Linked DNA regions of Homo sapiens. The protein of the gene in region 1 purifies or fractionates together with the protein of each later gene. This does not show direct contact. Each region holds a gene or a part of one and is shown on either strand. Other genes may lie near its edges. The genes, in order: CALCR and GNG2.

What was found.
Region 2: the proteins of CALCR (region 1) and GNG2 fractionate together in Homo sapiens (co-fractionation; one study listed by IntAct). This does not show direct contact.

Annotation. Positions count from the first base shown.
Region 1 is NC_000007.14:93,568,208-93,572,036, reverse strand, and holds part of CALCR (calcitonin receptor isoform 2 precursor), read left to right. Parts: intron 1-3,829. UniProt on the Homo sapiens protein: G protein-coupled receptor activated by ligand peptides amylin (IAPP), calcitonin (CT/CALCA) and calcitonin gene-related peptide type 1 (CGRP1/CALCA).
Region 2 is NC_000014.9:51,961,590-51,965,418, forward strand, and holds part of GNG2 (guanine nucleotide-binding protein G(I)/G(S)/G(O) subunit gamma-2 precursor), read left to right. Parts: intron 1-3,829. UniProt on the Homo sapiens protein: Guanine nucleotide-binding proteins (G proteins) are involved as a modulator or transducer in various transmembrane signaling systems.

The DNA.
Region 1 (3,829 bases):
ACTCCAGCTTTAAGAGATGTTGAAAATAATACTTGATGAAACATACAATTTCATCTCCTTTTGCTTAAGACCTGTATACTGTGTAAAGTACAAATACGTACCCTTTTGAAAGAGGAGAAAGAGGAAAATAGCATCATTCCCCTTGGCACACTAACTACCATATACCCGGTGCCAATGATAATCTAGTACTTTTACAAAAAATATGTTTTAAGCTAAGAGTAGCCTTGTGAGTTACAAGCTATTATCATTATTTTATGTATGAGGAAATTGAGGACCCATTAGATTAATGAACTCGCTCAAAGCCACGAACCAAGTAAATTAAAAATATATTTGAACCCAGGTCTTTTTAAGTTCAATGATGGATTACATTATATATTTATTTACATATTTGTATTTTTTACAACTTAACAGCAGCATTTATTTAGAGATAATATAAGTTAAGAGTACAAATTCTGGCACAGCTCTGCTTGAGTTTGACTTCTGATTCCATAACTTTCTATCTGTGTGATTTGGGCACATAATGTAACTTCTCGGTGCCTTAATTTTCTTTGTAGAATAAGAATTAAATGAGTTAATATTTGTAAAGCATTTGGGTAGGTGTCTGGTACATGGTAAGTTCTATGTGTTATATTTTTTTAAATGTCATTCATTCAAAAAAATTTTTATTGTTATATGCCAAGCATTGCACTAAGCCTGAAGATACATAGACAAATAAGTCATATCCCTATCCTCAAGGATGTCGTGTCTAGTAGAGAATGACAAGAACATAAGTAATCATCCCAATCAGGTATAGATCTTTTACTTAATTAAAAGCATCATTTCTTGACAACTGTGTGCTTTTCCATGTGAATGTGATCTTCCAGAGCTTCATATAATGAGTGTTATAAAACCAAGTGATAAGATTTTGTGTTTTCATAATGATACTAACTTGTTTTCAATTCTAGTATCAAAACACAGAAAATCATATTAACATATGTTTCTGGCTTCCCTTATACATTTAGAAAACCAGCAATATAGAGAGGTTTGAGATCTTTAAAATTTTATATTAAAAGTGAATCATGAAGATAGAACATTGGAGAATAATCAGTAGAAAAAATGTTATCAGTATCTGTTCCTCAATACTTCTAACAGTAATTTTCTTGAATTGGCTTTTCAAAAACAGTTTTGTCTGATTAGAATGTAGTTTTGGTTTTGTTTTTAAGAAAAAAAATGTTTCAGGGAAGAAAGAGTGGATCACAGGATACAGAAAAATGTCCCTAATACAAGTTGGCAAGGCAACATATACCTCATTGAAGCTGGCAGCACTTCCTAGTCTATGCCTGCAGCTCTGCACAGCTGCCTGGTACCTCCAGGGTACCAGTGGATACCTGAGGTATAAGATTCTGTCTTTGTTAAAAATTAAAGTCCCTGTTTATTTTTTAAAAATAGCATATAAATTGGTATTCTTTGTACCAGAATAACACAGATAATCTAAACTCAAGGAGTTATTTCTCAAAGAAGTAAAGTACCTGGTTCAGTGAAATATTTAACTATTCCATTTCACTAAAATTTATGTTTAACTATTTCAGTAAAATTTATGTCTTTCCTCTCTCTTATCAAGTCTCAGACTACCTCCAGTTTTTCCCATGGATGCTACATTTTTCTTCCTCTAAGTATCGCTGCCACACCTCTAGTTTAAGTTTTTATTATCATTAATAAAATATTTATTCTCCTAATATTCAGTCACATTAAGTTTCTATGTGCTAACTTCAGTGTTATAGAACATGGTTAGACTTGTTTTCTAATCTTTAATTTCTCCCCCTCTGTTCATAATTATTCAGTAATGGTCCAAGGACTGCAAGACTTAGAACCCCTCTTCAGCCTGGTATTTAAGATGTTTCATGGTATAATCCTAGTTTAGCTTTCCTATCCAAGTCAGGTAGAAAACCTCAACAGCTCCTTAATTTTAGTTCTGAAGCTGTAGTTACACCAGAAAAATTGACTCCTGATTTGGAGTCCATTCTTCACTTTTAACCCTGTGCCCTTGCATGTCAACCTCAGTCTATATTCTTCTGCCTCAAAATTGAAGTGTGTGTGTGTGTGTGTGTGTGTGTGTGTGTGTCCCTTTACATCAATGGTTCCATTGTAGAGCTGCTTTTCTTTGGTTTTCATGTCTCGCTGCAACCCTAGTCTCACTCCCTGCCCTTTATTTGTCCGGTGGTTCAGAATTCAACATTTCAAATCTTACCTTCCTTCATCCTTAAAATGTATTAATCATTCTCCCATAACACATCTAACAAATTTCCATCCTATAGCTTTGCTCATATTTTAAAACTGAATAAATATGTACTAAGTGCCTATTATGTCCTAGTCAGGGGATATTGTGACAGATTACAGATCCTGATTTCATGGGGAATGGAAAAGACAGACAAACCAACAAACATTATACAGCCCTGTGGTATGTATTCCAATAGAGAAATGCCATGAGGGTGCCTAGCCGGACAACCAGCCCGGACATCAGGGAAATTTTCTAGGGAGGTTACCCTAAAGGGCATATGATTCAGCATTGAAATGACAGAACAGAATGAGCTAGATAAAGAGGGGAAGAAATGAAGTGTTACAGGCAGGACACCAGATTGTGGCTTGAAACAACATGGTGACTTGGGGAAACCACAGGTATTTTTGTTGCCCCAGCAGGGTTAAAGGACACAGATTATACACAAAGAAGCTTGCATGCCTACCATACTAAAGGGTTTGCATTTTATCAGGAAGATAGTGGGGGGTCCTTGAAGGAGTTAATATAGGTTACTGAAATAATCAGATTTGCCATTTTGGTAGATCTCTCTGGTGGAAAATAAGAGGCATATTAGATTGAAAAAAAGGATGGATACAGATTAACTGGACACACGCAGCCTTACTGCAGTGACAGAGGGAAGAATCAATTAGGGCCTCCTTGTTGGAGACAGAAAAGAAAAAAAAACGAAATTATTTTAAAGGTAGATTTTGTAGGATTTGGTGAACGATAGAAATTAGAGGTGAGATGAAAGAGAAAAATTGTATGATGAATTCCAGGCCTCTTTCATGGATAATAAGAGAGATGTGATGTCATTCACCAAGTCGGGACAAGGAGTATTTTGGACAGGCAAGATAAATAGTTGAATTTGGAGGAAAAAAAAATAATGTCTTTGGCTCATCCATGTGATGATGTTAAGTAGAAGTGCATATAGAAATTAGTGCCTCAAGAGAGAATTTGGTACTAGAAATATAAATTTAAGAGACATAGTGAATCTATTTCAGCTGACAGCATAGGAATAAAGCATATTATCTCTGGAGAAGTAAAAACAGGGAATAAAGAAAGAAAACATAGAGGAAAAAATTAAAGGTAGAAAATTAAAAGAAAAGTAAAACATCTTAGAATCCTGGAAAGCACCAATATTTAAAGGGAAATGGAAAACAATCCTGCAAAAAAAAGACAGAGATGAAAGACTACAGGAGAGAGACAGAGAGAGAGAGAGAGAGAGAGAGAGAGAGAGAGAGAGAGAGAGAGAAAGTAATTTTATGGAAACCAGGGAGGAGAAAGCGAGCACTCATGCGGGATGTTACCAGTAGATCAAGTGGGATAAGGATTGAGAGCTCGCAATTGCATTTAATTGAGAGCAATTTTAGTCGTGAGTTGGGTGTGGGTTGAGAAATAAATGTGAAATGAGGAAATGGAGACACTGATTGTACACAATAATTTCAATCAGTTTGAGACGCCTGCCTTACTTTATTTTCCCTTTTTGAAAGGTGCAGTCTCCTAAAGCTTAACTTACATGCTGCTTCCTTCTTTTTAGCCTTTCCTGGACAGCGT
Region 2 (3,829 bases), on another chromosome or scaffold:
AAAGAGAAGAATGTGAGAAAGTACTCTGAGAGAAAATAATCAGGAAAGTCACTGTGGATGAGGCGATCAGTGAAGGTTCTGCAAGGAGGTGGTATTTCTGCTGACTTCTGAAGGAAGATGATAAGCCAACCCATTGAGGAGATGAAGAGAACAATATTCTAGGATACTGAATATGTGACACTCTGAGGCAAAAAAGAACTTGGAGCTTTCAAAAAGTAAAGGAGATATTTGAGAGGGAAGAATGCTACAACATGAAATTGGAGAGAGGGGGAGGCCCAAAACATGCAATACCCACAGGCTGTTTTACAAAGTTTTGGTTTTCTACAAATTACAATGAGAAGTTATTGAAGGTTTTAAATAGGAGAATGATAGGAATCCACTTGTATTTTAAAAATATCTTTCTAGCTACAGTATGGAGAATACTACTCCTGCATAGTTATGAACACAGGAAATCATTTAAAACTGAGATAATTAAACATTTTTGTGCTCTTGACTCATTTGTCTGTCTGCTCAAGCCTATGGTCTCCTTCTTAGAATCATGTTTTTAAATTACAAAAGAAACTAATTATATTGACATGAGGGTCATTAGAATATTTTTGTAAAACATTTTAAATAATATTATTTAAAATATCAATTTTTAAAAATATATGTGATGTAGTTATACATAGGTACTCCTTTGTTAACTGATTATGTAAGATCTAATAGGTCTACAATCATAAGGTGGATGAACAGAAATGCAGTGTTGAGGTGTCTGCAATGAATATAATGTGATTGAAAGTATCTGGTATCTATCAGTGGCCAAGTCACATGTACTGCTAGGGCTACTGCAGTGTGTTGTCTATATTTATAATGAGAGGAAATGTTAAATTTCCATTTGAGGTTAGTGAAAAATAAAGATGTAAATTTTTTGTATTATTTGAAGTTCACATACCACCCCCCGAATTCGATCTGTGGAACCCTGGGGTAATCCAAATTAATTGCCTTTATTTACAAAGTTATTTTAGTAATCACAAAGAGAGAAGACTGCAGTATGAACTGGGGTAGCTGCAATAGATATAACAGGAAGGGAGCCAAATTTGAGATATCTTTGGAGGAAGAATCAACAGGACAGAAAAGGGAGAGATTTTCTGGAGTTATTGGGGAAATCTTCATGGAAGAAGTAGGCATACGAATGTAGAAGAAGCTGTGTGCAAAATGTTAGCAGGGATTGTCAGAAAGCAGAAAGATCTGCTAGGCACACGATTGCTGTGACTCATTATAAGGCACAGGACAAGGAAGACAGCCACAGGTTAGAAAGGAGGAATGTTCATGAAGATTAAGTCAGGGACATTGAGACTCACAACTCAGTAGCTCAGGAGCTGTGGGACCTGGGGCAAACACTTAATGAAGCCTCCACTTCACATATTTAAGATGAGAATGATAATAGCTTGTGACCCATAATGTTGTTGTAAGGATTAAATAAGATACCGTATGTAAAGTGGTTAGCACAGTTCTGACACATAGCAAGGGCTGATAAATATTAGCAATTATTCTAATTACTGCTGGGATTCTGACACTGTTGGAGCATTGCCCACAGGAGATTGCAGTCTTGTTGAGGAAACAAGATAAAACACATAATATATTTTAAGAAGGAAACCATTCAGAATCAAATGTTCAAATATAAAGATATGAGCAGCTCTAAGTTATTAAATTTTCCTAGTATAGTACTTCCTGTATCATAAAAAGATTTTGAATATTCATGCTACATAGTTGTATGTGAGTGTTGCAAACGGGTAGGGATGAACGGTGCTGCTTCTCCTCGTAACAAATGAGTTTTAGATATCACTGATTTACTGTCTCCACTGCCTAACAGCTAAGCTCCTGTTTGGTGTAACAATGACTATCGCTCAAACAAGAAGAAAGAATGAAGAAAAAAAGTGATCTCAATTCAGTCTGAAAGTCTGTCCTTTGTTTTCATGTGGGAGAGCTAAGACATAAACAGGCTGTTTCCTTTCATTTTGTCATAGAAGCATTTCATAAAGAATTTCAATTTCAACCTTTGGAACAAAGCCCACATTTGAGTAGTTTATATGCAGATGGCTGTGGCTTAATGGCAACACATTCGAGTTCAAGTTCTTTTTCTGCTGTGTGCTTTGCTCTATGATATTGAACAACTTATATAATCTGCTGAGCCTCAATTTTTCATCTATAAAAAGAGGATAATAATTCTTACCTCAGGATTACTGTGAAGATCAAAAGAGGAAATTTAACTCAATGTCTGGAACAAAATAAGGATAAAATAAAAATATTTTTGTAAGTACTGTAATGTCTATTAAAAAGTGAGACTGATTTTTACATACATATCATGTATTGGGTTGACTAGTGTCCCCTAAAATTTATGCCCACCTGGAATCTTAGAATGTGGCCTTACTTGGAAATAGGGTATTTGTAGATGTAATCAAATTAAGAGGAATCATACTGGATTAGGGTAACTCTAACTGGTGAGATGGGAAATTTGGTCACACAGAGAGGAGAATGCCACATAAAGACACAGACACTCAGGAGAGAATTCCATGTGAAAATAGAGACAGAGATTGGAGTGATATGTCTATAAGCCAAGGGATACCAAAGATTGCCAGCAACCACCAGGCACTAGGAGAGAAGCATGGAACAGATTCTCGCTCAGACCCTCCAGAAGGGACCAACCAAGCTGATGCCTTGATTTCAAACTGCTAGTCTCTAACAGAATAAATTTCTGTTGTTTTAAGTTACCCAGTTTGTGAGGACTTGTTCAAGACAGCCAGAGGAAACAAATACACAAACCAATACCTGTACCTCTTTGTGTCAATTAGGGTTGGCTAGATGTTGTGGTAGTAACAGAAGGTGCCCTACCCTTCATTCTTAGGGGTTTGCAATAGCACAGTCACACTTCTCACTCCTACCATATGTCAATCATAAATCAGCTGCCACTCCACACCATGTCACCTTCATCAGGGATGCTGGCAGATGGAGCAGCCTCTGTCCAGAATGTTGCTTCTATCTGTTCTGTGGCAAAGGGAACAGAGACCCCAAAAATTCAACGGTTTATGGGATGAGAAGAGGAAACTGATTTCTCTACCCAACCAGTAAATCATAAAGTTGAAGTAGCCTTAAGTAAAAAAGGCCAGGCACAGTGACTTACACCTGTAATCCCAGGACTCCGGAAGGTGAGGCGGGAGGATGGCTTGAGGTCAGGCGTTCAAGACCAGCATGGGCAAAATAGCAAGAACATTTTTGAAAAACCAGCTAGGCATGGTGGCATGCACCTGTAGTCCCAGCTACTCAGGAGGCTGAGGCAGGAGTGACAAAGCTTTAATCAACTCAGCCCTGGGACAAGAAACAAATCAAGGATATTGCCACTATGCCATTTGTTAAAACCTCTGCATCAATTAAGAGGGTTCCTCATAAATTATTTCAGTCGGACGAAGTGGTATAGAGGAAGGGACATGGCAAACTGTGCATTGGCTCCTAAAGTTTCTGCCCATAATTGATCCACATAAATTCTGCTCACATCTCTCTGGCCAGAGCAAGCTTATGTCACTGGGCAAGTCTGATGTCATCATGTGGGCATGTATGTCCCACTTGTAGGAAGGGGCAGTGACTATCTTTAGTAATAATATAATTCACCCAAATCTTAAATTAGATTATCCTTTCAGTAGTTGCTTTGATATCCTTTCAGTAGTTACTTGACAGGCGTTCGTAGTAGTACAGTGGTGTTGCTTTCATGTGGAAATGTGTTATTTTATGTAAAAATTTGACCCCAAATGGCATTCCCCAGGTTGATCATTTACCTAGTCCCCAGATGTAGCTA